Homo sapiens: one gene and its partner. The protein of the gene in region 2 purifies or fractionates together with the protein of the main gene of each other region. This does not show direct contact. Each region holds a gene or a part of one and is shown on either strand. Other genes may lie near its edges.

Evidence for each region.
Region 1: the proteins of PRUNE1 (region 2) and RUFY3 purify together in Homo sapiens (affinity purification with mass spectrometry; one large-scale study listed by BioGRID and IntAct). This does not show direct contact.

What each region holds. Positions count from the first base shown.
Region 1 is NC_000004.12:70,801,665-70,805,481, reverse strand, and holds part of RUFY3 (protein RUFY3), read right to left. Parts: intron 2,527-3,817; coding exon 2,499-2,526; exon of another isoform or gene 2,498-2,498; intron 1,135-2,497; coding exon 1,066-1,134; exon of another isoform or gene 1,064-1,065; intron 1-1,063. UniProt on the Homo sapiens protein: ARL8 effector that promotes the coupling of endolysosomes to dynein-dynactin for retrograde transport along microtubules. Acts by binding both GTP-bound ARL8 and dynein-dynactin.
Region 2 is NC_000001.11:151,025,147-151,028,963, forward strand, and holds part of PRUNE1 (exopolyphosphatase PRUNE1), read left to right. Parts: intron 1-368; coding exon 369-527; intron 528-2,086; coding exon 2,087-2,181; intron 2,182-3,639; coding exon 3,640-3,798; intron 3,799-3,817. UniProt on the Homo sapiens protein: Phosphodiesterase (PDE) that has higher activity toward cAMP than cGMP, as substrate. Plays a role in cell proliferation, migration and differentiation, and acts as a negative regulator of NME1. Plays a role in the regulation of neurogenesis.

The DNA of each region.
Region 1 (3,817 bases), on a different chromosome or scaffold from region 2:
CATGTGTTTCATACACTCATTTGTACATAACTTTTCTTGAGGATCTACTATGGATTGGGTACCATATTAGATGCTGGGGGATTCTGTGAACAAGACACAGTTCCAGCTATCAAGGGCACTCATTCTTTCTGAATACTTCCTTAACTCTGCCTACTCTAGGATAACAAACTGGGAAGATGCTCAGGCAGGCACCCTTGAGGATCGGGTGGAAAACAAGTGGTCTAGCAGGGAGAGCTCATATCCTGTTCTGAGCAGGATAAAGTGCTGAAAGGACTGTGGACTTTGGAGCGAAAGCTAGGTTGGAAGCTGGGCTTCATCACTTATGACTTAATTTTGGGAAATGTAGTTAGCATTAGATGTTCAACGTTCTTCATCTATAAAATGACAGCTATGAAGGACATAAGCTTGACAAGAACAGAGACTTGGTCTACTTTGTTCATTACTCTTTCTCCAGCACATTCTACACAGCAGGCACTCAATATTTACTTATACATTTCTATCTGCTTATTTGCTTTATTACATAATTATTTTTGTTTGTTTATTTATTTACTTATTTTTAGACAGAGTCTCGCTCTGTTGCCCAGGCTGGAGTGCAATGGTGTGATCTTGGCTCACTGCAACCTCCGCCTCCCGGGTTCAAGCGATTCTCCTGCCTCAGCAACCTGAGTAGCTGGGATTACAGGCCACCACGCCCGGCTATTTTTTTTTTTTTTTTTTTTTGTATTTTTAGTACAGACGGGGTTTTACCATGTTGATCAGGCTGGTCTTGAACTCCTGACCTTGTGATCGGCCCGCCTCGGCCTCCCAAAATGCTGGGATTACAGGCGTGAGTCACCGCGCCTGGCTATTTATGTTTATTTTAATGGGAATTTTCTGACATGAATTATTATGACTGAAAAAACAGGTACCCAGTAAATGCTTGCCCCTTTTGCTTTTCACCCCACTCCCAGCACTCTGCATGCACTCTGCACTCTATGCGGGAAAGTCCCTGTTACTCCTGGGGAGGGACTGGGGGCTGCTGTAGACATCCCTATGAAAAGCCTGTCCGTTTCTCATCACAGTTACCTTTGTTAGGCTGCCGTCTTCCTGGCATAGCTGACACAACTGTGGCTTTTCAGAGAGCAGCAGCTGATCCTAAACCACACAGGGAGCTGGTTAGTTTTTCTTAGTGCCAGAAATATTAGTACTTTCAGAATATGCATTTTTTACCTACAATATTAATATAATCACACTATAGACTATCTGGAAACTAAACCAATTATAAATAGGTAGTCCTACCACCATAATACAACTCGGATAATCCTATCATTATGCTTCCAGCTCTTAATTTTTATAATAACATGATTTCTAAAAAGAAAATTCAAACACATGCAAGTATAGAGTAAAAAGTTTTAACACTATCCCATTCCTCTTGTTCACTCTACCATCAAGAATGGAAAGCACTGGGGACTGGGCCTGGTGGCTCACGCCTGTAATGCCAGCACTTTGGGAGGCCAAGGCAGGTAGATCACTTGAGGTCAGGAGTTCAAGACCAGCCTGGCCAACATGGCAAAACTCCATCTCTACCAAAAATATATATATTAAAAAAAAAAAAAGTTGGACATGGTGGTGGGCGCCTGTAATCCCAGCTACTCGGGAGGCTGAGGCAGGGGAATCACTTGAACCTGGGAGGCGGAGGTTGCAGTGAGCTGAGATTGTGCCACAACACTCCACCCTGGGTGACAGAGTGAGACTCTGTCTCAAAAAAAAAAGGAAAAAAAGAATGGCAAGCATAGGGCATGGAAGCTCACACCTGTAATCCCAGCACTTTGGGAGGCCAAGGCGGGAAGATCACTTGAGCCCAGGAGTTTGAGACCAGCCTGGGCAACACGGTGAAACCTAATCTCTGCAGCCCTAGCTACTCGGGAGGCAGAAGTGGGAGGACTGCCTAAGCTCGGGAAGTTGAGGCTTCAGTGAGCTGAGATCGTCCACTGCACCCCAGCTTGGGCAATGTGAGTAAGACCTTATCTCCATTTAAAAAAAAAAAAAGGAAAGCAGTAGGACTTATTTTATTTTATAACCTAAGAGGTAAATGACAGGGTGACTCAGACACAGTAGCATTCACTGTCTTTCTCATGGGCTTATCATATACTATTAGATTAACAAAGTGTTTTACAATCATTTATGTTAGCTTATTTCTAAGTGATCAAAACATCTTTTTTCTCTCCATTTTATGTAAGGAAAAACTAGAGGAAAGGGACATAAAGTGAGCTCTCCTAGATCTTATGTCAGGGATAATTTAAAATAGGTGAGAACTGATGTTTACTTAGTAAACTGCTCAAAGCTGTGCTACTTCCTGTGTGAGCTTCAGGCAATACATATTTGTTCAGGGTATTGTTAGAAGGATGGCACACTGTATTCACTCATCTTCCGCCCATGCTACCTTATTTGCTGGCTAGGCACGGTACAACCAACTTCATAATTCATACAAGATGTTTTGAAACAGGAGGCTCTGTTACCTGTTCATCCATAGGGTGGGGTTGCAGCCTACAATGGAGAAGTAAAAAATTGTGACAAATAGGAACTTCATGTATTTTCATTTATATCATTTCAATAAAAAGCTCAGAATACAAACATTTTTTTCAAACAAGAAATACTGTAGGTCTTTTATATTACTTAGAACAACATAATTATTAATTTTGACCTCCAAGGAGAGGAAACTTTGCTTCTTAAAATGAATCACTAGAATCTGACCCTTGACTTATTATATAAGGGTTCCCATTTAAAAATAGATTTGAAGTTATATTTTACATTCCTTTTTGCTATCAAAATAGTTAGCATTTATGTTTCCCAATGTGTAAAACTCCAATGGTTCACTGGCCATATATTTTAGTAGCTTTTTTTCTATTTGATATTATGGAAATCTATCCATTATCCATTATCACATGTTGTGTATCAGTCCCAAATATTCTTAAGATGTGAGCTTTAGCAAATTAACCCAAGAAGGGGAAATGAATGAGACTGTCACCAGAAAACCCATTCAGGTTGAAATATTTCTTCATGAGGGACTAAGCTGAGCTAACTCCGATGTTCCAGCATGGACTAGAGCCTAAATGAGAGGTGAAGCAAAGCCCGCTCTCGGTTACAGGGAAAATGCACTACAGATTGCAATGGTTCTTATTCTTTTCACTTGAGTAGCAGTGTGACCACCAGACATACACCATGGGGTGACCAGGTTTTCCGATGTTCCTTGCCATCATAATCCCAGGAAGCCTGGTATGTCTAACGATTGCAGCTATGGCCAGAATAAGTCCTGGAAGTTGCTAATAGGTAGTGCAGAGCCAAAGGACTTAAAAACAGTAGACATGATAAACAGAGGCAACTTGGATAAGTCACCCAGCCTCTCTGCTTCTCAGTTTTCTCATCTGTAAAGTTGCATTAGGTACTTTTGTAAGGAATACTGAATCATAAGGAGATAATAAATGTGAAACAAATTCTAAGTTGCAGAGCACAATTCAGATATAAGGAAGCACTGTTCCATATTCTCAGGACCTAAATCAGAAGTTGGCATTTAAGACACTCCTGGTTGCTCAAGTAAATGATTTGATTTTAGTTTGGAACGAGGCTGACCCTGAAAGGCACCTGGAAGCCCAGGTTAATTTTATGGCCCTTCTAGTTCCCTTCTCTTTGCTTATGCCATTCTGTAATGTGAGATGGGTGATAGTTTAAAGTTAGCTCTGGATCAAACCATGCTCTTTGGGAGCAAGGCCAGAAAGGGACATTTAGGCCAAGCACCTGCATAATTAGCTTACTATTGGACTGTGTGTTTTCTCTTCTC
Region 2 (3,817 bases):
TTTTCCACTTGTAAAAAAAAAGAGAGAGAGAGTGAGTTGGACTAGACTGTCTTTTCCAACTTAGAAGATTCTTTGATGGGATTTGGCCTACTGAAGAGGTGTATCTCTGTCTGACTAGGCTGTAAAATCTCCAAGGTTTGAGATGCTCAGGCTTTCTTTCTACCTTTTCCCCATTTCCCTTCCTACATTTTAGTTTGGATTTGGGAGGTCTGAGGACACTGTCCATCCCAGTTTCTCATTTTGCTTTCAGAGATTTTGCTATACAAATCTCCTTGTGTGTGTCCATTTGGTGTGAAGGTTATATATGTTCTGGTGGTTGTGTGTGAAGGGTCACAGGATTCAAGTTCCACCATCTCCCTTCTCCACAGGAACCATCATCCTGGACTGTGTCAACATGGACCTTAAAATTGGAAAGGCAACCCCAAAGGACAGCAAATATGTGGAGAAACTAGAGGCCCTTTTCCCAGACCTACCCAAGAGAAATGATATATTTGATTCCCTACAAAAGGCAAAGTTTGATGTATCAGGTATGAAATGTTAGCTGACTTTTCTGCCTCCCAGATAAGAAAACAGAAAGGCAAGCCTTGTTCATTATATTATTTTTTTTTTTTTGAGACAGAGTCTTGCTCTGCCACCCAGGCTAGAGTGCAGTGGCACAATCTTGGCACACTGCAACCTCGACCTCCTGGGTTCAAGCGATTCTCCTGCCTCAGCCTCCCGAGTAGCTGGGATTACAGGCGCCCACCACCACGCCCAGCTAATTTTGGTATTTTTAGTAAAGATCGGGTTTCACCATGTTGACCAGGCTGGTCTTGAACTCTGAAGCTCAGGTGATCTGCCCGCCTGGGCCTCCCAAAGTGCTGGGATTACAGGCATGAGCCACCGCGCCTGGCCAATTATTTAAATTTTATACCAGAAAGAAATGAAGTACCATATTAGCCTAAGCATGAAATAATCAGTCATTTACTGGATTGTTCTATCCTGGCTCTTGGTTAGGATGAGGAGGAATGTATTAAGAGCCTCAGAAGGGCCAGACGCAGTGGCTCACGCCTGTAATCCCAACACTTTGGGAGGCCGAGGTGGGCAGATCACCTGAGGTCAGGAGTTCAAGACCAGCCTAGCTAACATGGTGAAACTCCGTTTCTACTAAAAATACGAAAAATTAGCTGAGCGTGGTGGTGTGTGCCTGTAATCCCATCTACTCAGGAGGCTGAGGCAGGAAAATCGCTTGAACCCGGGAAGTGGAGGTTGCAGTGAGCCGAGATTGCGCCATTGTACTCCAGCTTGGGCAACGACAGCGAAACTCCGTCTCAAAAAAAAACAAAAAGAGCCTCATAGGTTCCAGTCTATTCAGAGAATACAGGACATATATATAAAATATGCTGAGAGTATACTAAATTATCAGAGTGAAATCTATAGAATTGGTTAGGGAGGCAAAAGAAATATTTTGTGAGTAAACAAAAGATGAAGAGAACCCAAAAAAAACTGTATTCTTGTACTCAGCTACCACCTGTTGACATAAAAAGGAAGAAAGAAAGAAAGAACTCACATGTAAACAGTATAGGAAGAGGGAAAGATAAAAAGTAAAAGCCTCTGTTCTGGGTTTCATCCTTCTCTCCAAAGTTACTTGCTCTAAAGGTACCTATTGTCACCAGTTATTTAAGATGGCTTTTGATTATGTGATTACATTTTCTTTCTTTCTTTTTTTTTTTTTTTTTTGAGACAGAGTCCAGGTTCAAGTGATTCTCCTGCTTCAGCCTCCTGAGTAGCTGGGATTACAAGTGCCCGCCACCACACCCAGCTAATTCTTTGTATTTTTAGTAGAGACAGAGTTTCATCATGTTGACCAGGCTGGTCCCAAACTCCTGACCTCAGGTGATCCGCCCACCTCAGCCTCCCAAAGTGCTGGGATTACAGGCCTGAGTCACCGCGCCCGGCTATGATTACATTTTCAATTATCTCCCCCATTCATTGCCCCAAAGAGAGGCTGTTTTTCCTTCCTTGACCCATCTGGCTGTCCTTGCCTTCTTGGTCTTGGGACCCTGGCCTACCCTGTTTGACCCCTAGTCTCTCATCTGCTTTCTAGGACTGACCACTGAGCAGATGCTGAGAAAAGACCAGAAGACTATCTATAGACAAGGCGTCAAGGTGGCCATTAGTGCAATATATATGGATTTGGAGGTAAGAGCAAGTTGTGGCTGTGGGTGGGGAGAGAAAGCCTTTAGCTATGCATGTTATGCATGTGGCCTTGCACCTCATTCCTGGCTCACCTCCAAAATGTATCTTGTGTCTATCTTTGTCTCTACCTCCACTGTGACCACCAGAGTCCAGCATCTCTCACTGCACCGCTGTATTAGCCTCAGTACTGGTGTCCCTGCCTCTGCTTTTGCAGCCCTACAAACCATTCTCCCCGCAGCAGCCAGAGTGGTCTTTTTTAATTTTTTTTTTTTTTTTTTAAGGGAGTCATGCTTTGTTGCCAGGCTAGAGTACAGTGGTACCATCATGGCTCACTGCAGCCTCAACCTTCCAGGCTCAAGCAATCCTCCCACCTTAGCCTCTCGAGTAGCTGGGTCCACAGGTGCACACCACCACACCTAACTAGTGTGTGTGTGTGTGTGTGTGTGTGTGTGTGTGTGCGCGCGCGTGTATGTATGTGTCGATGGGGTCTCACTATGTTGCCCAGGCTGGTCTCAAACTCCTGGCCTCAAGCAGTTCTCCTTTTGGCCTCCGAAGTTCTGGGATTATAGGCGTGAGCCACTGTGCCCGGCCTCATTGTATTTTTAATAAAATCTAAAGGACTTACTGTGGTTTACAGCGCCATGCTTGATCTGGCCCTTGTCTTTTTCTCTGGCCTCATCTCATTCCAGCTCCACTCCTGTTCTACAGTACTGCAGCCACACTGGTTTCTTTTCTGTTCCTCAGAACCATTAAGCTCATTCCCAGCTGAGCTTTTTTCTTTGTAAAGCTGGCTCCTTCTTAACATTCAGGTACTCAGCTCAGATGTCTCTTGTTTTGGGAGGTTTTTCCTGACCACCCTAACTGAAGTACTATCTCCTATGCTCAAAAAACCTCTAGCAGTTATGTATGTATGTTTGTTTGTTTGTTTGTTTTGAGCCTGAGTCTTATTCTGTTGCCCAGGATGGAGTGGAATGGCATGATCTCAGCTCACTGCAACCTCTGCCTCCCGGGTTCAAGTAATTCTCCTGCCTCAGCCTCCCTAGTAGCTGGGATTACTGGTGCGTGCCGGCATGCCCAGCTAATTTTTTGTTTTGTTTTGTTTTGTTTTTGTTTTTTGAGACGGAGTTTCGCTCTTGTCCCCCAGGCTGGAGTGCAATGGCGCAATCTCAGCTCACTGCAACTTCCGCCTCCCTGGTTCAAGCGATTCTCCTGCCTCAGCCTCCTGAGTAGCTGGGATTACAGGCATATGCCCCCATGCCCGGCTAATTTTTGTATTTTTACCAGAGACAGGGTTTCACCATGTTGGCTAGGCTGGTCTCGAACTCCTGACCTCAAGTGATCACCTGCCTCGGCCTCCCAAAGTGCTAGGATTATAGGCGTAAGCGACCGTGCCCGGCCCAAGGATGTTTTATTGATGATGATGAGAAAGTCCTTCATCCCTCTCCGTTTCTTCCCTTTCAGGCCTTTCTGCAGAGGTCTAACCTCCTTGCAGATCTCCATGCTTTCTGCCAGGCTCACAGCTATGATGTCCTGGTTGCCATGACTATCTTTTTCAACACTCACAATGAGCCAGTGCGGCAGTTGGCTATTTTCTGTCCCCATGTGGCACTCCAAACAACGGTGAGTCTGTGTCCCTTCT